Linked DNA regions of Homo sapiens. The protein of the gene in region 7 purifies or fractionates together with the protein of the main gene of each other region. This does not show direct contact. Each region holds a gene or a part of one and is shown on either strand. Other genes may lie near its edges.

Region 1 (3,500 bases), on a different chromosome or scaffold from region 7:
AGTGCCACTGCACTCCAGCCTGGGCAACAGAGTGAAGACGCCGTCTCAAAACAACAACAAAAAAATGTTTCAAAGCAACATTAATATGTATGATTTGTTTACCATTCGAAATCAGCCATATTCCTACTATTTCTTTCAGTGTGAATATTAAGTTTACTACAATTATACTAAAATAAGAACACAGATGTAACTCATAAACAGTTGGAAGCTATACCTTGTGCTCGAAGCTGGACTAGTTCTTCACTGAGGGCATCGACAGATTCCTCCAACTGTCTTTTCTTTTGTTCCACATTTTGAAGGTATTCAGTCAATGACTTGATTTTGGCTTCATGCTTTTGGAAAAAATATACTGATATGAAGTGGAAAACATATGCATACACTTTAAGAATATTTGACAGTAAACATTTCATTATCTATATATGATAAATTTGGGAATATTTAAAACTAAAATATTCAGGAGCCAATTTTGAAATGTTAAAGAATGTAATCAATTAATTCATTGGTGATCATAACTTGCAAACTAAGGCACTGAAGACTCAAATATGAAATACTAATTTTACAGATACCACCATCTAACGTTACCATCTTCCCTCCTTGTGAAATTCTGATAGTGGTGAATGGCCCCATTCATTCAGTTGCCAAGCCAGGAAACTGGTTCCCTGCAGTTTTGCCCACCCTGGAATTCTGAAGTCTTTAACAAGTTACCACCAGTCACATCATTCTGGTAAATTTCTATACATAACCCATATTTATGTTAGGCAAATATAACTCAGTTAAATCATTCAAATTTACTGCAGCTAGACTAGGAAAAAAACAACTAAATTTCACCTATAGACACACATTTTTCTGAAAACTTGTATAATAAATAAAATTTCTATGTGGCTGTTTCAAAAAAATGAATAAACTTTGTTCTATAACATACTTGAGAGATACGAAGCTGACATGCTGCTAACTCCTTTTCATTTTCTTCCATTTTTTTGTTGCTCTCAGTTTGTGTGCTTTCTAACTGCTTGCAACGTTTCACCATGGTTTTTACTTCTGACTTCATTTTGCTAATGTAGAGTCTTGCAACAGTGAACTCTTCATCTATCATGCCAGTTCCCTCAGGCTGCTGTAAGGAAAAAGTAAAATAAAAAATTAAAGCCAAAAATGTTCAATGTGTGTTTTCCCAATTAGGCTATAAAATCTTTTTATAAAATATATTTTAGTATTACTCAATATTCATACAAAGTCTGGATCTTATTTTTTTCTTTTATTACTGTTTTCAACGAAAGGTAAATAAATACAGCTTACTTTTTGCCTTCCTTTTTTTAAAAACTGAGAATAATGTTAATACATGCCAACAAGAAAAATAAATAAATGTAAACCTAAAGAAAACACAAAAATACAACCAAACTAATAAATTCTGCCTCTTTCAATTTTTTCACTTCCTCTTTACAGGACCTCTTCAGTAAATTCATTGTTAATCATGTGCACGTTCAGCTTAAAATTTAACAAGAGGATGTTTAGGTGGCAGGGAAAGGATGAACTTTAAGCTCAACCAGAAGGAATTGTGGTCACTGTATATTCCTTCACCTTCAGGAAGAAATAAAACTGTGCAGATGACATGATTAAGTTTACATGTAAAGTCAAAAGACCCTGAATAGCTAGCACAACACTAAGGACAAACAAAGTCACAGGACTTGACACTATGCAACTTACTGTAAAGCTATAATAATCAAAACAGTACAGTGCTGGCAAAGAACAGATAAACAGGTTAACAGAACAGAATAAAGAGCCCAGGAATAAAACCACAAAATACAGTCAACTGATCTCTGACAAAGGTGCAAAGGCAATTTAATGGAGGGAGGACAGTCTCTTCAACTGGACATCCAGATGTGAAACAATGAATCCTGGTACACACCTTACCCCTTTCAGAAAAATTAACTCCAAATGGATCATAGATCTAAATGTAAATGCAAAACTGAAAAAAAAACTTTTAACACAGGAGAAAATCTAGGTGATATTGGGTTTGGTGACAAGTTTTTAAATACAATACCAAAAACACAATCTATTAATGTAAAACTTGGTAAGTTGGACCTCATTAAAATTAAAAATTTTTAGTCTCAAAAAATGACGTTGAGAGTAAAAAAAAAAAACAAAAAAAAAAAAACAAGACACAGAGAAATAATGCAAAACACTATCTGATAAAAGACTTATATCCAAAACATATGAAGAACTCTTTTTTTTTTTTTTTTTTTTTTTTTTGAGACGGAGTCTCGCTCTGTCGCCCAGGCTGGAGTGCAGTGGCGGGATCTCGGCTCACTGCAAGCTCCGCCTCCCGGGTTCACGCCATTCTCCTGCCTCAGCCTCCCAAGTAGCTGGGACTACAGGCGCCCGCCACTACGCCCGGCTAATTTTTTGTATTTTTAGTAGAGACGGGGTTTCACCGTTTTAGCCAGGATGGTCTTGATCTCCTGACCTCGTGATCCGCCCGCCTCGGCCTCCCAAAGTGCTGGGATTACAGGCGTGAGCCACCGCGCCCGGCCGAAGAACTCTTAAAACTCAACAATAGGAGGCCAGGTACGGTGGCTCACGCCTGTAATCCCAGCAATTTGGGAGGCTGACGCGGGCAGATCACCTGAGGTCAGGAGTTCAAGACCAGCCTGGCCAATATGGCGAAACCCAGTTGCTACTAAAAATACAAAAAATTAGCCAGGTGTGGTAGTGGGAGCCTGTAGTCCCAGCTACTCGGGAGGCTGAGGCAGAAGAATTGCTTGAACCCAGGAAGAGGAGCTTGCAGTGAGCCGAGATCATGCCACTGCACTCCAACCTAGGCGACAGAGCGAGACTCCATCTCAAAATAAAACAAAACAAAACTCAACAACAGGGCCAGGCGCAGTGGCTCATGCCTGTAGTACCAGCACTTTGGGAGGCTGAGGCAGGCGGACCACCTGTAGTCAGGAGTTCGAAACCAGCCTGGACAATATGGTGAAATCCCATCTCTACTAAAAATATAAAAATTAACCAGGCGTGGTGGTACGCGCCTGTGTTCCCAGCTATTTGGCAGGCTGAGGCAGAAGAATCACTTGAACCCAGGAGGCGGAGGTTATGGTGGGCCAAAATCACGCCACTGCACTCCAGCCTGGGTGACAGAGCGAGACTCCGTCTCAAAGAAAAAGAAAACCTCAACAATAAGAAAAAACACAACTGCAAATTAAAATGACAATAAAATAACACCATACATTAGTAAAATCCCAAGAAACTGACAAGAGCAAACACTGGCAATGATGTGGAACAGCAGACTCTCATTCATGGCTGATAGGAATGCAAAATGTTTCCACCACTTTGGAAGACCATTTGGGAGTTCCTTACAAAGCTAACATAGTCATAACGTACAACCTAGCACTTCTAGGTATTTTTACTCAACTGAACTGAAAATTTATGTCCAAAGAATAACTTACACATGAATTATTATTATTTTTTTTGGAGACAGAGTCTCACTCTGTCACCTAGGAAGG
Region 2 (3,500 bases), on a different chromosome or scaffold from region 7:
ATCTTGGCTCACTCCAACGCCCACCTCCAGAGCCCAAGCGATCCTCCCACTTCAGTCTCCTGAGTAGCTGGGCTTACAGGCGTGCATCACCACACACAGCTGAGTTTCAAATTTTTGTTTTGTAGAGACAAAGTCTGCCTATATTGCCCAGGCTGATCCTGGACTCCTGGGCTCAAGTGATCTTCCCACCTTGATCTCCCAAAGTTCTGGGATTACAGGTGTGAGCCACCAAGCCTAGCCTGAAGTTTTAATTTTAATTAATTTAAATTTAAATAACCATATATGGTTAGTAGTTAATATATTGAACAGTGCATGAATGTGCTGCTTTAGCTTATGATTTTTTTTTTTTTTTGAGACGGAGTCTTGCTCTATTGCCCAGGCTGGAGTGCAATGGCACGATTTCCTCTTACCACAACCTCCGCCTGCTGGGTTCAAGCGATTCTCCTGCCTCAGCCTCCCGAGTAGCTAGGATTACAGGCATGCGCCACCATGCCCAGCTAATTTTTTGTATTTTTAGTAGAGATGGGGTTTCACCATGTTGGCCAGGCTGGTCTCGAACTCCTGACCTCGTGATCCGCCCGCCTCAGCCTCCCAAAGTGCTGAGATTACAGGCATGAGCCACTGCACCCAGCCTAGCTTATGATTTAAGAGGAGGAGGTAAAAGACATTTCTTGTTTAGTTAGGAGGCAAAAGACATTCTAGTTGTTATGCTGAGGAAGTTTAATAAATTATTTAGAGTGGAAGTTATATTTAAAAGCACCGACACAGGTTATCTAAAATCATTCATCCTATCGAAAATATAGTTCACAAGGATTTATAGTGCTCCTTTGCCACAATACACTCTGAAAGAGTTGCTTGTTTTGAAAGTAAGTGATTTTGTAGTTACTTTATTTTAGGGCCAGATCTCTACTCATCCTCTTAAGCTGGTGAAAAATTCTTTCCAGGAAAGTTTCCACCGAAGTTGTTTTTATTGGCAGTAGTTCAGGTCTCAGAATACAGAAAGTTAAACCAGCCTCCTAGATTTATTGTTGTTATCCTTAGTGCTGAGATGAAAGCATAACACTTGTAAGTTCTCGACTGTGCTTAGCTTTAAAACCCATCTTAACCTTCTATAATAGGAAAAGAGAGCTTACTTCTTCTATCCATATTATGACCAAGGTCTAATGCATATAACAATTAAATAATACCATGTTGCAGTGTAAATTAGCCTGTTTCTTTATTTATCGTCCTTTTGGTAGCTGCAGTTATTTTTTTAATTATTATTTTCATAAACTTTCTGAGAAAACTACACACTCATTATTACCACAACCATCTTTTTGTTCCTAGTGGCTTTTGAGTCATAAAACAGAATTCTCCCAGCTTATTTAAAAGCCACTAGAAGAAACTGTGTTCAGAGGCAGACCCACCAGAGCTTTGACTGCAGCTTAAATACATCATAAATCCTTTTTACTAAACATTTTATAATCATCCTGGGTAATTCACAAGCAATGCATTTACAATAGTCAAAATATTCTTGGAAGACAGTGTCTAAAAACAAAAATGTATTCCTTCTATATATAATATGATGGAGGCACAGAAGGGCCTATACTGAACTTGAGAGAATGAGACCAGAAAAGCATCTACTCTTCTGATTCTCAGCCAATATCTTGACCACATATTCATTCAACACAGAGTTTTGAGGCACTGGGTATATAAGAACAAACAAAATTAGAGTTCCTATACTCACAGCATTTAGAGATGAGCAGAGAAGACAACTTAATACAGTTAAGATGTAATTCCTACGATGATACAGGAAATATAGTGTGCTGTGGGAATCTACAAGGCTTAGAGGTGAGAGAGAACACAAGACAAATAAATCCAGTATAAATTTAGCAAATATGGAAGGTGGAGGGAAGAGGGGAGATGAAACTGGACAAGGAGGTAAGCAGAGACTGATTGGTTCATGGAGCATGCTAAACTTGTTAAGGAGTTTGGACTTTATTCTTAGTGCAATGTAAAGTCATTTTATAATTTTTTTAATTAATCATGCAATCCGATTTACATTTTTAGAAAGATCATACTAATTACACTGCGGAAACTGGATAATCGGTAACTGAACACTGTGACACCAGTTGGGAGATGAGTGGTGATGGCCTGGTCTAGAGTCTTGACTATGAGGATGGGGTACAGTGAAAAGATAAGAGAAACATTTAGGTTTTGTGCTAAAAAACATTTAGGCTTGGAGGAGGGGGTGTGTGGAGATGAGAGAGATGTGTCACTTGGCCTGGTCCTGTGTAATTTGACCAATTCTGGATACATCTGACCCAAATAAATATATTCAAAAAACTATTATATATACCCTTCTGGTGCTTTAGAGAAGCCAGATTGGAATCAGAATTGTAAGTAATCAGGATTTTTTGTTAATGGGAATTAATCAAAAGGAGAATTGAAACAAAAGAAAGAATGTGCATAGTATGAAGAGAGCTTATGGCAGGAACTCCAACATTTGAGTAGGAGGTGGGTCAAGGAAGTGGACCTAAAGAATGACCAAGATGTGACTGAAGAGTCCTAAGAAAAAAAAAAAAACAGGGTGGTTTTTAGTAACTATAGCTTATTAGTGTATTTCCAGAAGAATGGAGTGGTAAATACTGTTACATGGCACAAAGAGGTTAAGCTACGAGAATTGAAAATGTCAGCTGGGCGTGGTGCTCACACCTATAATCCCAGCACTTTGGGAGGCCAAAGTGGGAGTATCACCTGAGCTCGGGAGTTCGAGACCAGCCTGGCCAACATGGTGAAATCCCATCTCCACTAAAAATACCAACAAATTAGCTGGGTGTGGTGGTGGGTGCCTGTAATCCCGGCTGCTCTGGAGGCTGAGGCAGGAGAATCGCTTGAACCCGGGAGGTGGAGGCTGCAGTGAGCCGAGATGGCGCCACTGCACTCTAGCCTGGATGACAGAGCGAGACTCCATCTCAACAACAACAAAAAAGAATTGAAAATGTCTGTTGATTTAAGAGTGTTTTTTAAACTTTCTTTTCCTTAATGCCTGCTAAGGAGCCCTTTTAGACTCCATCTTCTCACCACCCTGCCAATCAAATTCCTCACCCATAAAACTTTTTATTATTCTTTCTTTTTCAACTGTAAATTGACAAATTATAGTTGTATATATTTAGGGGTACCAGATGTTATGATTTATGAAATGTGGAATAATTAAATGAAGCTAATTAATATCACCATAAAATTTTAATACCACAGAATATTCTCTGTTTATGTATTGTATTTGTGCTTTACACATAAAAAGAGTATTATATTTTTTTCACCTCACAAGAAGCAGTTTTTATCTGCTTTGAGAATGCATGATTTAACACACAGAGGACACTGGTGATCTTGGTAAAGGTAGTTTTGGTGGGCTGGGTGCGGTGGCTCACACCTGTAATCCCAGCACTTTGGGAGGCTGAGGCGGGCAGATCACGAGGTCAGGAGTTCGAGACCAGCCTGGCCAACATGGCGAAACCCTG
Region 3 (3,500 bases), on a different chromosome or scaffold from region 7:
AGGAATCTATGAACTCATTCCGTAAAACAAAGGAAAATTTATTTTTTCTTCTCTGCATGTTGAGTGCTGGGAGAATCTCCAGAGCACACTAGATAATATTATCAAGGCTTTTCCTGGGTCTGGGCCGTGCCTGTTGCTGCCTCTGGGACAAGTCGGCCTAATACAGGAAAGCTTATTTATCTTTCTTTTTAATTTTATTTTTCTTTAATTTCCCACCTCACTCACTTATAAGTGGGAGCTAAACCTTGGGTACTCAGACATAAAGATGGCAAAAGTAGAAGCTGGAGACTACTAGAGGAGGAGGGAGGGCGTGAGCTAAGGGTTGAAAAACCAACTTGGTATGACGATCAGTACCTGGGTGGTGGGATCATCCATATTGCAAACCTCAGCATCATGCAATATATCCAGGTCACCAGCCTGTACCTATACCCCCTGAATCTAAAATAAAAGTTGAAAAAAAAATTAATTGGAAGGAAGAGGGCTTAAATTTAATCTGCCACTTACACTTAGAGTCCAGTTTTTTTTTTTTTTTTTTAAAGAGACGGAGTCTCGCACTGTCGCCTGGGCTGGAGTGCAATGGCGCGATCTCGGCTCACTGCAACCTCTGCCTCCTGGGTTCAAGTGATTCTCCTGCCTCAGCCTCCCGAGTAGCTGGGATTACAGGTGCCTGCCACCACGCCCGGCTAATTTTTTGTATTTTTAGTAGAGATGGGGTTTCACTATGTTGGCCAGGCTGGTCTTGAACTCCTGACCTCATGATCCACCTGCCTCAGCCTCCCAAAGTGCTGATATTACAGGCGTGAGCCACTGCACCTGGCCCAGAGTCCAGTTTTCTTAAATGGGAAACTTAAACCAAAGTCTATTTTCCTACAAAGTCTTCGTTGGATTTTTTCATAATCTTTTGGATTTTCCATGTACCTTCTCACCTCACCCTAACATAGAAAAATCTTCTCTCTTATTCTGGTTATAAGGTCATCATCATCTTTTTCTTCTTTTTTCTTTTTTTTTTTGAGACAGGGTCTTGCTCAGGCTGGAATGCAGTAGCACAACCATGGCTCACTGCAGCCTGCCTGCCAGGCTCAAGTAATCCTCCCACCTCAGCCTCCCAAGTAGCTGGGACTGTAGGTACACACCACCAGGCCTGGCAAATTACATTTTTTTTTATAGAAAAGGGGTCTTGCCATGTTTCCTAGGCAGATCTCACCATGTTTCCTAGGCTGATCTCGCCATGTTTCCTAGGCTGATCTCCAACTTCTAGGCTCAAAGGAGCCTCCTGCCTCAGCCTCCCAAAGTGCTGGGATTATAGGTGTGAGCTACTACTGCACCTGAACCTTTTTTTTTGATAGAAAATGTGAAAAGTGCGTTAACATTTTGAAGCATGTATTTGCCCCCAATTTCAATGTGTATATATACTCATAAAATTAAAAGACAGTTTTACTTTAAGAAATGAAAAATTAAAAAATTAAACAGTTTTTTGTCCATTAGTTTTTTTGTTTGGTCCTCAAAGCTGTCTCCCTTGGTTGCTCTTAACTTGTTTTTGGGTTGCAAACCATTTTGAGAAGTCGATGAGAGCTGGCCTCCTGCCCAAAGGGATGTAGACAAAAATATGTAACATTTTGCATATCCTCCCCACCGAGACTGAGTCTTGCTGTGTCACCCAGGCTGGAGTGCAGTGGTGTGATCTCAGCTCACTGCAGTGTCCGCCTCCTGGGTTCTAGCAGTGCTCTTGCCTTAGCCACCTGAGTATCCGGGACTACAGATGCCCACCGCTAGGCCTGGTTAATTTTTGTGTTTTTAGTAGAGACGGGGTTTCACCATGTTGGCCGCGCTACTCTCGAACTCGTGATCTACCCACCTCAAAGTGCTGGGATTTCAGGCGTGAGCCACCATGCCCAGCACATTTTGCGTGTTAATTTTAGAATGATCGCAGACTCCCAAAGGTTCACTGATACTTGATTAGGAGCTTTTTTTTTGAGATGGAGTCTTGCTGTCGCCCAGGCTGGAGTGCAGTGGTGCTATCTCGGCTCACTGCAACCTCTGCCTCCCGTGTTCAAGCGATTCTCCTGCCTCAGCCTCCCGACTAGCTGGGATTACAGGCGTGCACCACCACACCTGGCTAATTTTTTTGATATTTTTAGTAGAGATGGGTTTCACCATGTTGGCCAAGCTGGTCTCGAACTCCTGACCTCAGGTGATCTGCCCGCTTCAGCCCCCCAAAGTGCTGGTGTATCTGGAGTTGGTTCCTTCTGGTGGGTTCTTGGTCTCGCTCACTTCAAGAATGAAGCCGCAGACCTTCGCAGTGAGTGTTACAGCTCTTAAATGTGACGCAGACCCAAAGAATGAGCAGCAGCAAGATTTATTGTGAAGTGTGAAAGAACAAACCTTCCACAGTGTGGAAGGGGACCCTAGTGGGTTGCCACTGCTGGGTAGGGTGGCCAGCTTTTATTCCCTTATTTGTCCCTGCCCATGTCCTGCTGATTGGTCCATTTTACAGAGTGCTGATTGGTCCATTTTATAGAGTGCTGATTGGTCCATTTTATAGAGTGCTGATTGGTCCATTTTACAAACCTCTAGCCACAGAGCACTGATTGGTGCGTTTTACAATCCTCTAGCTAGCTACAGAGCGCCGATTGGGGCGTTTTACAATCCTAGCTACAGAGAGCTGATTGGTGCATTTTACAATCCTCTTGTAAGAAAAGTTCTTCACGTCCCCCCCACCCCCGCCCCGACCCAGAAGTCCAGCTGGCCGTTGGATTGGCAGAGGATGAGAAAAATGGGGTCTGGTTTGCTGACACTGTGTCATTACACAAAGAATAGAATGACAGAGTATCCTGTGCTGTCCTCTTTCAGTTTTCGTGGTTATAAAGAGAAGGTATCTTCTAAGGCAGAAGTCATTTGTCTTCAATTAGCAATTTATTGGATTATGGACAGGATTCTATTCATAAGTTTGAAGTTGATTGGCTTAATCTGTGATCAGAAAAGGGTGATTTCGATTGGTTAAAGAAAAAAGAATCTAAATTGTATTTGGTGCCTGTTACATGGAAAGCACTATTCTAAGCATATTGCCTTTATAAAAGGGGATTCATTAACATTGCAAAATAAAGTAGTTATGTGATTTTTGCATTTTACGTGGCATCAAATGTTTCCTGAATTGCGTCTCTTTGTAATTCATTATACATCATCTTTTTTTTTTTTTTTTGAGACAGAATCTTGTTTAGTCTCCCAGGCTGGAGTGCAGTGGCGCGATCTCTGCTCACTGAAACCTCCGCCTCCCAGGTTCAAGTGATTCTTCTGCCTCAGCCTCCTGAGTAGCTGGGACTACAGGCGCATGCCACCATGCCCTGCTAATTTTTGTATTTTTAGTAGAGACGGGGTTTCACCATATTGGCCAGGTTGGTCTGGAACTCCTGACCTCATGATCCGCCTGCCTTGGCCTCCCAAAGTGCTGGGATTACAGGCGTTGAGCCACTGGGCCCAGCCACATCATCTTTTTATGGAGT
Region 4 (3,500 bases), on a different chromosome or scaffold from region 7:
CAATTAAAGGAAAATATAGACTTAATGAATGTAAAATAAAGAATCTCAACAGAAAAACAGAAACTATAAAAACCCAATGGAAATTCTAGAGCTGAAAGCACAATTAAACAATTCACTAGAAAGGTTCCACAGCATATTAGAAATCACAGCGACCTTGAAGAGTTCAACAGAAATCACCCAACCTGAAGAACAGAGAGAAGACTGAAGAAAAATGAACCTTAATGACCCATGAGACAGTATCAAGCTCTCCAATGTATGTGTTATTAGAATCCGAAAAGAGAAAAAGCAGGAAAAAATAATGAAGAAATTATAACCAAAAGTTAAACAGAATAAAACAATATAGGTACTGCTTTAAGGTTAAAAACTTATTTATATAAAAACCCACTGTATACTCAAGCAATTTAACAAGAAAATCTACATTTAATTTTCAATTTCTCTAAGATGAGGAGATAAGACAAATCAAATATAATTCGAATACTGCAACTAATCAAATTATAAAATAGTTCAGATTTTTAAAAACTTTCTAAATTTTACTTTCAAAAATTTACTTGAACCCAACAGTGCTTATTCTTTAAGGGGGAGGGTGCTACTCTTGGGGAGAGGACATAAGAAAGCTTTCTGAAGTGCTGGAAATCATCTACATCTTAATCTAGTTAGTCTTTTACATAAGTGTACACATATGTAAAAATTTGTTAAGCAGAACCCTTAAGATTTGTGCACTTCACCATATCCAAGTTATTCTTCAATTAAAGAAAGAAGGAAAGGGAAGAACGGAAAGATGAAGGAAACGAAGGGTGTAAAGGAGTTGGAAACCAACTTACCTGAAACCTGATCATCTGTTAAGCCAAACGCTGACATAACATTTTTATTGATTTCATCTTGGTTTTTTAAAGGATCAAAAGCAGACATACTTGCTGCCATAACCTGAGTAGACTGTTTTCCAGAAGAATCAGAAGCAGACTTTTCTTCCCTACCATCCACAGTATCTGTAAAAATAGAGGAATAAACAAAAACTTGTTTCCTTTTTATCTATATTCAGTAAGGCCTAAAAGTACAAGGGAAATAATGCAGGTGTATAATGATAGTCTGGAATGTTAAGCATGTCGGAATATAGGATTACAGATCATTTTAATTCCTTTATTTTTTTTATATTTTTCCTTCTAGTAACAGGGAGAAGAGGGCAAAAAGAAACAGAAGATGAACAAAAGCTTTCCAAAAAAATTATTTACCTCCTTTTGTAAGAAACATTAGATGAAAAAAATACAAGCTCCTTGATAAAGAGAAACATTTTACTTTTTTTGGTTTTTTTGGAGCCCAATAACCTATATCCTAGTATCAGATACCCACTGGGCACTCTGGAAATAATAATTATAGGAACTAAGGCTTTATTTTATAAAAAGAAACTGAACTAAGGTTATAATCTCAAATTTTACATTTTATTTCTACTGTCTACTGGTCCACTATTAAATTACATGGAAATCAAGCCAACCATAATTAATTCATAATCTTCCATAAATAGCACATTAAAAACATTTTTGAATTTGCTACCTTCTATTTTAATATGTATTACTTATTAAAATACTTATTAAAATGCTTACAGATGAAATGATGTATATGGGATCTGCATCAAAATAATACAGGAGGGGAGCCGGGTGCAACAGCTCATGCCTGTAATTCCAGCACTTTGAGAGGCCGAGGTGGGTAGATCACTTGAGGTCAGGAGCTCGAGACCAGCCTGGCAAAACCCAATCTCTACCAAAAATACAAAAATTAGCTAGGCACAGTGATGCATGCCTGTAATCCCAGCTACTCAGGAGGCTGAGTCACGAGAATCACTTGAACCCAGGAGGCAAAGTTTGTAGTGAGCTGAGATTGTACTCCACTCTGGGTAACAGGAGGGGCGGAAATGTGTATAGTGTAATTATATGATACTATAAGTTGGTAACTGTTGAAACTGGATGTGGGTTTCTGGGATTCATTATAATGTCTACTTTCTTATATACTTAAACTTTTCTATAATAAAATGTTTAAAACAACAACAGAAAAACAAAATGTCAAATATTATGAGCAGGTTAAATTTAAAATCATGCTTTTCTTCTCAGGATACTAAGATATTCCACAGGCATTTATACTACTGTCTTGTGAAAGAAAAAGAGTTCAAGAATTTTAACATACATTTTACAAATAGGAATCCAAGTCCAAGATACAAAAGACATCAAAAGAAACAAACAAAAAACACGAACAAGTAAACAAAAAGACTGTTGCTAACCATTTACTCAATTAAGGGACAATGATTATCACTTTTGTTACCAAGCAAGTAAATGAACATCAGTTCTTAGATCACCCCTGTAATCAATACAAAATGTATCTTCTGAAAAAAATGTTAAGTGCTAAACCGAATATAAGTACCCACAGCACACACTGGCTGGCAGCTCATTCATTCCTAACATACCATTCCAGGCTACCCTAATATTTTCTAAATGTTTGGAAAAAGAAAACTACTACTAGAAGTATTCCTTTAAAACATGTCTACCAGTTATCTATCTTCCCTACCAACTTCCTTCCTCTAATCCCAAGAGCATACCACGTCAGTCTTACAAGTTGTTTCCCCTCACATCTCACTACCTATGCCTCTTTTCACTTATCACAAACTAAAACCATCAGGAAACATACTATACGTCCTACTACTTGCTCCATTAGCTGCTGGAGATACTGCAACAGGTCAATCTTCTATCTAAGGTAGTTTACACATCATTTGCCTCTTAAAGGAAAACAAGCATCCAAGAACCGCTGTAATAGAGAGCTGAAGACCACAGGTGGCCACATTTCTTGGTGAGGGTAAGCCACAGGTTCTAAATAGCACTGATAGCTGATTGGCAATTTCATTTTGTGGACTAGATTTCAGTTTCTGATGTATGGTTTTCTTGTTGTTTTTGTTTTCTAAAAAAATAAGAACTATCTCTAAAAATATAATGCAGATTGTATTATTCTTATATCATCTTATCATCAGATATGTCAGACAGGACACAATAACTAGAAAATGGCCATACAAGAAAACAACATATGGCATGATTTCCAAAATGCAGAGAAGAAACCAATTTTAACACCTTTTACATTAACATAGGTAAAAAGCTAACAGTATGTATAAAAAATATAGACACAAAGAATAAAGTATAAACAGTAGCAAGAAAGAGGTGAGGAAAAAGTTTCACCTAAAGCAAAAAACTCATAAATCCATTCCTTAGAGTAGAATGTGGGCCACTGTAGCTAATTTCTGAACAGTATTGGCTATACTGGTTAAATTCTCATCTACACTTCTTAATATTCTGCAGATGGTTAAATCCCCTGAAATTATATGCAAATGTTGTGTCAGCATCTATGAATTCTTCTGGAAAAATTGTCTAACTTTTTCATTGATTCTTGATCTAAAATTGGAAATTTTTGTTTGGAGAGGTAGGGCTCAGAATAGGCAACCTTCTTTGACCTGAAATATAAAAGGT
Region 5 (3,500 bases), on a different chromosome or scaffold from region 7:
CAGTGGGTGAAGAGGCAGGCAGCACAATGGCCTGCCCAGGGCCACAGGACCCCTCACCAGCACCAGCCTGAAGCGGGTAGGGGCCATGCCAGGCAGCCTCCTTCCCTGAAGGTCTCCCTGCCTTGGGGAGGTCAAGGCCTCCCTGGTGGGATTCTCCAGCCCCCGGGCACACTGCGCCCACACGCCTCCACCACCAGGCTCCCTGTTCAGCTCTCTCCACTGAAAGACCTTTTGTTCCTTCATCAAAGGGGATGTCTGGGACAGGGTTGACTCAGGGCCTCCCCGCACATCCCCCAGGGCAGCAGCGCCAAAGCAGCCCCTCCCCCGGGCCCAGTGCCCCTGAACCCCTAGAGGCCCTCCCAATGCAGGCAGGCAGCCAGCCCTGCTTGCTGAGGGTGCTGTGAGGGGGGCGCTGAGCATGGGGGTGGCAGAGGCGCCAGCACCCCCCAGCAGCCGCAGGCCTGGCAGAGCCCCCCGCAGCGCAGCAGAACTGGGCCCACTAGGTCTCCAGCACGCCTGGTAGCAGAGTCCCGGCTGGGGGCCTCCGTGGGGTGTCCCCGCCCCCTTCCAGTGCGTCTGGGAGTGGATTTGGCGGCTGCCTCTCCAGACTCATCTCCCTCCACGCGCCCCAGACTTGAGTCTCCTCCAGAACTATTTTTAGATGCAGGGACCTGCCAACAGCGGGGCAGGCGGGGCGGAGGGACGTGGCAGGTTGGCTGGGCCTCGAGGCACGGCCTGAGGCTTCTCCAGGCCTCCCAGCCTCCCAAAGGCAGGTGGGGACCCAGCCTCAAGGCTCAGCCAGGACCCAGCACCAGCAGGAGGGATGAGCATCCTCCAAAAGCACCCTGCCGGTGGCCATCCCAACCTCACGCGGTGAGGCCCAGGGGTGCAGCTGGACCCAGGCCTGCCTCCCCAGGCAAATGGCCGCCTGCCACTCTTGGAGCTGAGTCGGGTGGCAGTAGGCAGCCACAGTGACCAAATGTTTCTGTTAGAAAAACAGAGCAACGCAGCCACCAGGGGGAAAAGCTCTTTAGGGGAATGACTCAGCCCCACTGCTAATCACAGGCCACCCTGCTGCACACCTGAGACCCCACTAGCAGGCCGTGGAGGTCCCCCGGGGGTTAGGGGAACACAGCCAGAGCCCAGGAGGAGAGAACAGAGGCACAGTCACTGACATAAGACCCACACGGTCTCTGACACACATGCCTCATACAATGCAGAGAAAACACAGCACAGGCCCACTGCCAGGTGCACGCACAGAACCCAGGCAGCCCCAGGGCCAGGGTGCCGCCCCTCTCCTCCCCTACTATCAGGCATCAAGCGGGGGGACAAGCGAACTCAGGAATACATCCCAGCCTCCCGGTAAGGGCCCCAGAGGCAGGTGTCAGGTCGGAGGAAGGGGACAAAGTGGGCCCCCGCCCTGGAGCTCAGTGGCTGGTCTCCCCCTTCTGCAAAATGGGTGTCGCCCCTGACCTGGGTTGGCTCCCGGCTCTGGCACCCCCAGGTCCCAATCCAGGAGCCTCGTTTCCTCCTTGGGAAATGGAGCACCACAGGAGCGCTGCGACCACGGCCACCAGGACACACCCCAGCATGAGGGGCTCACCCGACCTGGGTCATGGTGGCCTGAGGGGCCACCACCATAGCCCGCTCCCCTCCCTCCCCAGCTCCAGGCACCCCAGCCTGAGGTCCCAGCACAGGGGAGCCTGGGGCAAGATGAAGCTTCTAGGGCGAGGAGGGTGAAACACAGGCCCGACAGGACCACGTGCACGCCTGACCTCACGCCATGGCTGTCTCCTTAGACACTGACCAGGGGCACTACCTGAGCGACCTCCCACAGACGCCTTCCCCCGGGGGTCCCATCTGACCATGAAAGAGCCTCTGCCCTCAGATTCCTACAGCCCACACCCGGCCCAAAGAGTCTCGGTGCCAGTGTGGCCCTCACCTCTCCCTCAGCCATACGGGCCACCAGGCTCCCACCTTAGCAACCACTGGACCCTGCTCCAGGGCCCAGGGTTCTGACCCTCCTGGCCACCATCCTTGTCACTCACCCTCTTGGCTTCCTGAGAGCCAGTGTCCCTCCCGCCCACGTGAAGTCCTGGCAAGGGCTCCTTCTCAGCCCAGCCAACCACTACCCTGGAACTGGGAGACTCAGTTTCCCAGGCATTTGAGGGGCAGGCCTGAGGCTTGGAGGGGAGCACCTGGAGGTTCAGACACAGATGTCCCGCAGCCAGGTGTTACCGCCGTGCCACCGTAATGAAGGCATGAGCAATCGGAAACTGCCCAGGGCCCGCCCCAGCAGAGGGGGCAACCCAGCAAAGTCCAAGGCGGCTCAGGGACAAGCTTTAAGAATTCAACAAAATGCTTTTGATATCTAATGTTGGATTTACAACTTTGAAATGCAAAACTGCATGTATAAATCTGTGAAACACAGGGCAGATACTAGACAAAATATGCCAGAATTTCCCAGTGATTACCGCGATTGGAAAATTTCATCTCCAGACTTTCCCATACATTATGCATTTTCTACAGCAAACAAGCATTGCTTTTGTGATCATAAAATACAAGCAGACACAATCAAGACTGGGGGAGGTTTCCTGGGGGAGAGCAGCCAGGCCCAGGACACAGGGCTCTCCTTCCTGGGCCATCAGCCAGGTCAGGGCCCTTGGGGCACAGGTCTGGGCAGCTCTACCAGTGGGCATGGGCAGAGAAGGACCCAGCTGGCTGAGCCCCTGATGCAATTGAGAGCAGGCCCCCTGCCGGAGACGGAGACAGAACAGCTGCCAAAACACAGCCTCGAGGCCGGGCTCTGTCTGGGGGTCTCGCTGCTGCTCCCCAGCCCACAGGGCTTCCAGCCGCACCAGGACAAGCTTCACTGCAAAGGCGGGAGAGGAGGGGTGGGGATGTGCCTGACCTTGGGGCATGTGCAGTGTGGACTGTGTGTGCGTGTGCATACGCACATACATTTGTACGTTTGTGGGATACTGGTGGGTGCACACGCTTTGTATGTGTGGACGTACACGTGTCTGTGTGTGGGGTGAGTATGCACGTGTGTTTACACATATGGGGTTTGGGTGTGTGCGTGTTCATGCATATGATGTGCGCATGTGTGGGCGTATACGTGTGTCCATTTATGGGGTATGGGATGCAGATATGTGCATGTATTCACGCACATTCATGTAGCGCATGTGTGTGTTCGTGCATATGGTGTGTGCATGGGTGTTCGTATCTGTGGGGTACAGGCATCATGCACGTGTGTTCATCTGTGTGGGGTGTGGGTATACCTGGACTGTGGCCTGAGGCTCCCCTACAGGACACTGCTCCCTGCCGCCTCCCCAGGGGATAACAGGACCCTGCTCCTCTTGCTAAAGCCAGTTTGGGAGCACCCCCACCCAGGCACCCCACGCCAGCCAGGCTCGCCTCTGACCAGATGGCTGAAGGAGCAGGTAGAGCAGGAAGTGGGAGCCAGTGACCCAGGTTCCCCTGGTGGCCAGGCTTGGTGG
Region 6 (3,500 bases), on a different chromosome or scaffold from region 7:
ACTCGGAGGGGCAAGCACCACCCCGAGAAGTCTTTTGTGATCCGCCTGACCTGTCCCACGACTTTCTGTGCCCCAATTACACTCGGGTAAGTGGGCTCAATCAAGTGGAAGTAATAACATAAATCCCCATTGTCCACTCTTAATTATACAAAAGGTCAGTGGATCTCAAAGTTCAGAAGGCAAATTCCAGGGCCCCTCTCCTACAAAGCCCAGATCAGCAGGGTTGGGATAGGACATGAGAATCTGCACTGGAAAAGCACCCTAGTGACTGATACCCGTGCCCCAGGGAGCACATTTTGGAAAGCACTACAAAGGATCTGTGGTTTCTAAAACACTTTCAATATGGCCTTGTGTCCTTAAGAGAGCTTAACCACAATCTTCTACTGCAGTCTGTCCTCACCACTGCCTCCAGAGGGCCAGTACTGAAGCTCAACAGACATCAGCCTCCGGCAAACAGACCTCCCCATCAGTTCACCCGCTGCCTTTCCAATGCAACGTAAGCCCTGCACACTGCTACTGTATTCAAGAGTGTCCCTGGGCTGGGTCCAGCTGACTGGCCCACCTACCACTCCAGCCTCCTCGACCACTGCCCCACCCCTCTCTAATGCATCTGAGTTCAAACCCAATTATCTGCTGCTCACAGAAAATGCCAGGCTGTGCTGTGCCTTCAGGCTGTACTAACATTGGCTCCTCCCTGTGTAGCTCAGACCTTCCCTTCTCGCTGCCACAGTCACTCGGTCTTCCCCCTGGATGCCGCATCTCTTCCCCCACAGTCTTCCTGGTACGAAGTTGACCCACTAGTGCCTTCTTTGGCCTCCACCAGTATTAACAATGCCATCTCCCACAGTCCTGATCACACGCCATGCCCTGATCACACACCACTGCGGTCACACATCACATTTGCCTTATTCTGCCAAACTGGGAGGCCAGTGGAGCAATGAGCCATCCTCAGTCATTTAGGAAAGCCCAAACAAGGTGTGCAAGCAAGGTCAACTCAACGATGGATGACTCCATTCCCAGTTCTCTCTGGCTCACACATCTGTATTAAGAAAGTATACAGAGTCCTTTCAAGTCCAGAGACAATTCTTTTTTTTGTTTTGTTTTGTTTTTGAGACAGTGTCTTGCTCTCTCTCCCAGGCTGGAGTGCAACGGCATGATCTCTACTCATTGCAACCTCTGCCTCCCGGGCTCAAGTAATTCTCCTGTCTCAGCCTCCCGAGTAGCTGGGAAAACAGGCACCCGCCACCACAGCCAACTAATTTTTGTATTTTTAGTAGAGGCAGGTTTTCACCATGTTGGCCAGGTTGATCTTGACCCCTGACCTCAGGTGATCCGCCCACCTCAGCCTCCCAGAGTGCTGGGATTACAGGCATGAGCTACCGCGCCCAGCCACCAGAGACAATTCTTTACCTTGACTGACTCTCTGAAATAAATATGACCCAGAGCTGCCCGTCCCTGAAATTACAAGGGTGAAAGAAACACTGCTGGAAAATTCCACTAAGTCAGAACCATTAAAAGCAGGGCCAAGGCCAGGTGCAGTGTCTCATGCCTGTAATAACAGCACTTTGGGAGGCCAAGGCGGGAGGATCACTTGAGGTCAGGAGTTCAAGACCAGCCTGGCTAACATGGTGAAACCCCGTCTCTACTAAAATACAAAAATTAGCTGGGCATGGTGGCTGGCAAAGTGTAATCCCAGCTACTTGGAAGGCTGAAGGAAGAGAATCACTTGAACCCAGGAGGCGGAGGTTGCAGTGAGCCGAGATCACGCAACTGCACTCCAGCCTGGGCGACAGAGCGAGACTCCCTCTCAAAAAAAAAAAAAAAAAAAAGTAGGGCCAAGCCTGGCAGGTCTGTGCAGGGTTGGGGCTGCAGCAGTGGTGCGGGATGCTAGAGCCTGAATGGAAGGAAGAAGACAGGCAGGCATGGGGCAGTGACAGGGACCCAGCAGCCTAGATCTGGAAGCCTGAGTGAAAGAAGCAAGGGTGTCCATGCAGGGCCGTGCCTGGCCCCGGGTGTGGGAGACCAAACAGGGTGGGGATGGCACATATGAGAAGGGGAGGCAGGCACAGGAAGTTGATTACATACCTACAGGGGCCGGGTGGAGTAACTGAGGATGCTGAGAATAGAGGGAGCCAAGTTTCTCAAGGTCAGAGAAGGGCGTGACACAGCTGGGCACAGTGGCTCACACCTGTAATCCCAGCACTTTGGGAGGCCGAGGCAGACAGATCACTTGAGGCCACAAGTTCAAGACCAGCCTGGCCAACATGGCGAAACCTGATCTCTACTAAAAATACAAAAAATTAGCCAGGTATGATGGTGCATGCCTGTAATCCCAGCTACTTGAGAGGCTGAGGCACAAGAATCACTTGAACCCGGGAAGCGGAGGTTGAAGTGAGCCAAGATCACCCCACTGCACTCCAGCCTGGGCAACAAAGCGAGACTCTGTCTCAAAAATAAATGAATAAATAAATTTTAAAAAGAGAGAGAAGGGCATTGCAAGTGTGAAGGGGAACCCTGTGGTGTTAGACCGGAACTGGAGGTATTGGTGTGAAATCATGACTTTCAGTATATACAAATAGTTACACAAGTAAATATGGTCATAAATATGTGTACACATGCACACGCACACGCACACACACACACACTCCCTACCCTCGACCACTCAGGCCTCAGAACAATAACCAACAGCAGTGAGCACAACTAGCACCTTCTAAATACCACTCATCACTCAAAGGAACCTTGGAGAAATGATGGATTCCAGGGCTGAGTTATGGAAAGTATAAGATGACCCTTGGGTATTGTGTGCTAGAAGGTAAGGAAATGATCAAAGAACAAGGGGACAGGTCAAAGGGACATAGAAGCCTGTGTGAAGGAACTCTTGCTAGCCAAACCTGGGATAAGTAGAGAATCAGCATAAATAATTCTCAAAAGGGTCATCACCAGTGATGGAACAAAGCGAATCACAGTCCACCTGATGGGACTCAATGGGCAGGCCACAGGAGCACTTGTGCACTATTCCTGCCCGAGATGCATGAGTGGAATCCAATGCTTAGGGAGCATCAGACACACCCAGGCTGAGGGGCACAACACAGCAACTGGCCTGCCCCCTTACAAGACTGCAGGTCATCAGAGTAAAAAAAAAAAGCTGAGGAGTGCTCCAGACTCAAGGAGATCCAGGAGACAGGACAACTAAACACAATAGTGCATCCTGAACCGGATCCTTTCACTACAAAGGACATTATCAGGATAAATGGGAACCCATAGCTCATTGCTAACCCCGGCTCTGATGGCTGCATTCTAGTCATGTAGAAGAGGGCCCCTTGTTTGCAAGACATACACCCTAACAGTGATCAAAGGGTAATGGGTATCAAGCTGGTAACGGTTCAGGGAAGAAAGTTCTTCATACTGTATTCGCAACTTCTCTAACTTTAAGACGTTTCAAAACACAATTTCTCAAGAGCTCCTTACCTTCTTCATCATCGCCCCACTCTTTCTCATCA
Region 7 (3,500 bases):
GTTCTGTCATGATTGGGCTAATGGCTGGGAGCTGACAAGTCAGGAGCTCTTCTCTCTCCTTTGCATCTTCACTAGGGTACGAGTGAGAACGTAAGAGAGAGTTAGGGAAGCACAAGGCATCACTGAGCTTCCTGTAGCGTCTGGGGAAACAGGAGGCAGATAGGCTTCCTTCACACACTGAGCGAGAGTATGGCCACAACTCTCAATGCATGTCCTGGTCTGGAAGGGTAATGTGTGCCAGGAACTCTCAGCTTTGACGTAGCCCAGGAAAACCGACGAGGTCTTCTCTTGTTCTAAGATGAGACAGAGTGGTTGGATGACCTCTCAGTAATGAAGTCATGGGATGAGAAAGAGAGAGAGAGCACACTGGAAAACCCCACTGAGGGCAGATCCTGCGCTAAAAGTAAAGATGGGGCTGAACATCCAGGAGGCTGTGATTTGGACTCTGGTCAGCATCCCTTCAACTGAGAAAGGCAAAGCAAACCCTCGAGATGTTCATGAGCATCATTGACTCAATGACCCATCATCTTCACTTTCTGAGGCTCAGGTCAGGTTAGGGAAACAATTGGCTGGAAAAATACTGTTTGCCTAAATACAGTCATGTCACTCAGGATGGACTAATGAATCAGAGTTTCCTAGAGGGGTTCTTCATGCCTGAAGGAAAAACATCCAAATAGCCCATCATTTGTGCCCACTGATCCAAATGTCTTCCAGGTCCATGAGTGGGCAACCCCACCTTGGAGGCAGTCGCTTTGCAAGGCATCAAGAAGCCCTTTAGGAAACTAGGATTCACTAGTCCATTATGAATTGCATGACTGAGCAGAAATGGTATGAGACCCAGATAAGTGGACATTTCCACATAAGAGAACATTTCCAGATAAGAGAAACCCACAATATGAATAGGATTGCTGCATCTGGGTGTGTGTTGTGTGCACTGCACAAAAGCATCAGACTAAAGGGATGAATGGTACTAAAGCCCAGTCCCCTACTCTACCCCCCAAATGTGTGGCTGGTGCAGGGCTGCATCTTCATATCTTCATAGAGGAACAAGGGTGGTTTTTTTTCCTAATTCACACAAAGGCCTTGCATAGGTTGGTAAACAGCCTTGGGTAAGTGGGTAGGGGTGGGGATGGTAATCCTCCTGCCCTCAGAATTAGCCAAGAGGTCCATTAATAAGTGAGGCTGGAGATACTCATTGGTGACTCCAATATACAGGACAAAGAAATCAGCCCAGGTGGGTGAAGACTGTGGCAACTAAAGGGAGTACTTTGCTCAAGTTCTGAGCTAGTAACAAATATGGCTGGTTGGGGACAACCTTTGGATAACACCACTCCCTGACTCCCATAAGCCAGGGGCCTCTCTGCATATGACTTTTTATAAAGTGGAAAACTGGAGAGAGCAGGGCCCTGAGCTGAGTCCCTGTGGACAGGACCCCAGAGGCCACCACACCCCTGATGGGGGCTCGGGGGACACTGAACTTGTTTTGATGGCAAAGATCAGTTTTTCTCACTCAGCAAAACTTCAGCCGTAGCTACATTCTATCTTTCTCCTTCTGTCTTTCACTCTCCTCGATACCATTGTGTCTAACATATCACACTTTATACACATTCCAATGATCAGCGCCTGTCTTGTTTTTAACTCTGCCTTCTCCTTAAAAAGAATAAAAAATAAGAATTATTTTTGCTCAATTCACAAATAACTGTTACTTTCGATGGGCAAACACATGGTTGTGTTCTAATCACGCGACAGGCATTGATTCTCAGGTGTGGTTTATCATCTCCAAAACGGCATGCCAAAATGCTGCCAAGTGGCTTACTGGAAAAAATATTGGCAAATGGAGGTGCCAGGGGTGATGCTGCATAACATGGGGAGATGCTGGGTGTGTAGGTGTGAGCCACTGAGGTGCTTAGAGGGTGGAGAGTCTAAGAAGCCATGTTTCTCTGTGAGAATAGTGTATGTAAATGGAGGCTAGAGACCAGAATTACTTTACCTTTAAGAGAATTAACTTTATGCTTCTACGGATAGGTAAGCCAGTTACACAACTCATCCCCCCAGCAATCCATCTGCTCTCTATTACTATCCTTCTGGTATTAAAGAAAAAGAAAAAATGGAAAAGGGGCCACAGATTGGTTAGGAAAAAAATGAATGTTTGTTCATCCCTACAGGTAAACTTCAACACATTCACCAGTGATTGACACAGATACAGGAGAAAAGGTCCCCTAAATTGGAAGGGCTAGGAGAAGGCTCTCATTTGAAGCCTGACTGATGATCATATCTTTGCTTTAGAAGCAATCTGAATTTGTTGTTTTAGATTTGGGTCTCTTAAATGAGCATATAGTGGATTGGTAGATTTTGTCCTGATCCTAAGAATTTTCAACAACAGCAAACTTGGTTCTGTTGTAATAGCAATAACAGTGCAAAACATTTGGCTTTGAATCCAAGATCCAGGGATATTAACAGCTTAATTAGTTAGGTCTCTTTCTTTTTCAAAATGTTTATTTACTGGAAAATATAGAGACAGGAGGCTGCCTCTTTGATTTGTAAGTGAAGGGCAATCAGCATATTAAAACGCTGATTCCAAGCAGCTTCATTCATGCAGAGGAAAAACTCAACCTGGTTGGCATTTGTTAGGTGGCTGCCAGAGTGTCAGCGTGTGCACAAAAGAGCTTCCAGCCCTCTGCCTTTACGAAATGAGTGAGAACTGCCTCTACCCTTCTGTATGGAGTATTTTTCCCTATCATCTGCACTCCAACACAAAAGACATACACAAGTGACAAGTAGAGTGTGTTCAGCAAACACTCGCGTGGGTCACATGCTAAGTGGTTCTACTTGTTCTTCCCCATCCACATCAGAGTGTGGGGCACCCACTTGGCTAAATTCTACCAAAACTGCTGATGTATAGAGCAGAGTCACTGGGAGAAAAGAAACCAGACACCTAGAGCACCAAGTTTCAAAATGATTTAACTTTCAGAAAATTCTTAAGGCAAACTTTATCCTTTGAAGTGGGGCTTCAAAGAAGGGCTGGTGAAAGTGACTGAGTAGCCAGGGAAAAATCCTGCAGGCTCACGAAAGGAGCTGCTGGCTCCCCTACAGTGAGGTTCAGCAGTGGAAATGTCTGCAGCAGCTACCCAGGGCCGGGCATCATCCCACTGTCTAATACAGTGAAGAGCCCAGTAGAATAGCTGCAGCCTAATACAGCAGCTGAGCCAGTGCTCCACGCAGTTCAGGTGTAAACAAAAGGGAAAGCCTGGGAGATGCCAAGTGAGAAGCCAGGCTGCCAGATATCCATTTGCTTTCTTCCTTTCTTTACCGCCATATATTTTGAAAGCAACTTTCAGCATCTGGGCTTCAACTCCAGAAATCCTTTAACTTAGCCAGCTAGGATATAAAAGGCAATAAAACAGCAGGGAATTCTTACTGTGAACTTCATAGCATTCAAGTTTAAGGTGACCAGATGGTTTATCACCCAAACTGGGACACTTTCAAGAGTGAAAGGCAGG

What was found.
Region 1: the proteins of PALM2AKAP2 (region 7) and KIF5B fractionate together in Homo sapiens (co-fractionation; one large-scale study listed by BioGRID). This does not show direct contact.
Region 2: the proteins of PALM2AKAP2 (region 7) and AP3M1 purify together in Homo sapiens (affinity purification with mass spectrometry; 3 studies listed by BioGRID and IntAct, with this or other methods). This does not show direct contact.
Region 3: the proteins of PALM2AKAP2 (region 7) and ATE1 purify together in Homo sapiens (affinity purification with mass spectrometry; one large-scale study listed by BioGRID and IntAct). This does not show direct contact.
Region 4: the proteins of PALM2AKAP2 (region 7) and TFG fractionate together in Homo sapiens (co-fractionation; one large-scale study listed by BioGRID). This does not show direct contact.
Region 5: the proteins of PALM2AKAP2 (region 7) and BCAR1 purify together in Homo sapiens (co-immunoprecipitation; one large-scale study listed by IntAct). This does not show direct contact.
Region 6: the proteins of PALM2AKAP2 (region 7) and SART3 fractionate together in Homo sapiens (co-fractionation; one large-scale study listed by BioGRID). This does not show direct contact.

What each region holds. Positions count from the first base shown.
Region 1 is NC_000010.11:32,021,926-32,025,425, forward strand, and holds part of KIF5B (kinesin-1 heavy chain), read right to left. Parts: intron 1,112-3,500; coding exon 923-1,111; intron 333-922; coding exon 215-332; intron 1-214. UniProt on the Homo sapiens protein: Microtubule-dependent motor required for normal distribution of mitochondria and lysosomes. Can induce formation of neurite-like membrane protrusions in non-neuronal cells in a ZFYVE27-dependent manner.
Region 2 is NC_000010.11:74,144,329-74,147,828, forward strand, and holds part of AP3M1 (AP-3 complex subunit mu-1), read right to left. Parts: intron 1-3,500. UniProt on the Homo sapiens protein: Part of the AP-3 complex, an adaptor-related complex which is not clathrin-associated. The complex is associated with the Golgi region as well as more peripheral structures.
Region 3 is NC_000010.11:121,918,032-121,921,531, reverse strand, and holds part of ATE1 (arginyl-tRNA--protein transferase 1), read left to right. Parts: intron 1-3,500. UniProt on the Homo sapiens protein: Involved in the post-translational conjugation of arginine to the N-terminal aspartate or glutamate of a protein. This arginylation is required for degradation of the protein via the ubiquitin pathway. Does not arginylate cysteine residues.
Region 4 is NC_000003.12:100,729,994-100,733,493, reverse strand, and holds part of TFG (protein TFG), read right to left. Parts: intron 987-3,500; coding exon 822-986; intron 1-821. UniProt on the Homo sapiens protein: Plays a role in the normal dynamic function of the endoplasmic reticulum (ER) and its associated microtubules. Required for secretory cargo traffic from the endoplasmic reticulum to the Golgi apparatus.
Region 5 is NC_000016.10:75,238,125-75,241,624, forward strand, and holds part of BCAR1 (breast cancer anti-estrogen resistance protein 1), read right to left. Parts: intron 537-3,500; exon of another isoform or gene 1-536. UniProt on the Homo sapiens protein: Docking protein which plays a central coordinating role for tyrosine kinase-based signaling related to cell adhesion. Implicated in induction of cell migration and cell branching. Involved in the BCAR3-mediated inhibition of TGFB signaling.
Region 6 is NC_000012.12:108,526,674-108,530,173, forward strand, and holds part of SART3 (spliceosome associated factor 3, U4/U6 recycling protein), read right to left. Parts: coding exon 3,469-3,500; intron 1-3,468. UniProt on the Homo sapiens protein: U6 snRNP-binding protein that functions as a recycling factor of the splicing machinery. Promotes the initial reassembly of U4 and U6 snRNPs following their ejection from the spliceosome during its maturation.
Region 7 is NC_000009.12:110,157,698-110,161,197, reverse strand, and holds part of PALM2AKAP2 (PALM2-AKAP2 protein isoform 3 (PALM2-AKAP2)), read right to left. Parts: intron 1-3,500. UniProt on the Homo sapiens protein: Binds to regulatory subunit (RII) of protein kinase A. May be involved in establishing polarity in signaling systems or in integrating PKA-RII isoforms with downstream effectors to capture, amplify and focus diffuse, trans-cellular signals carried by cAMP.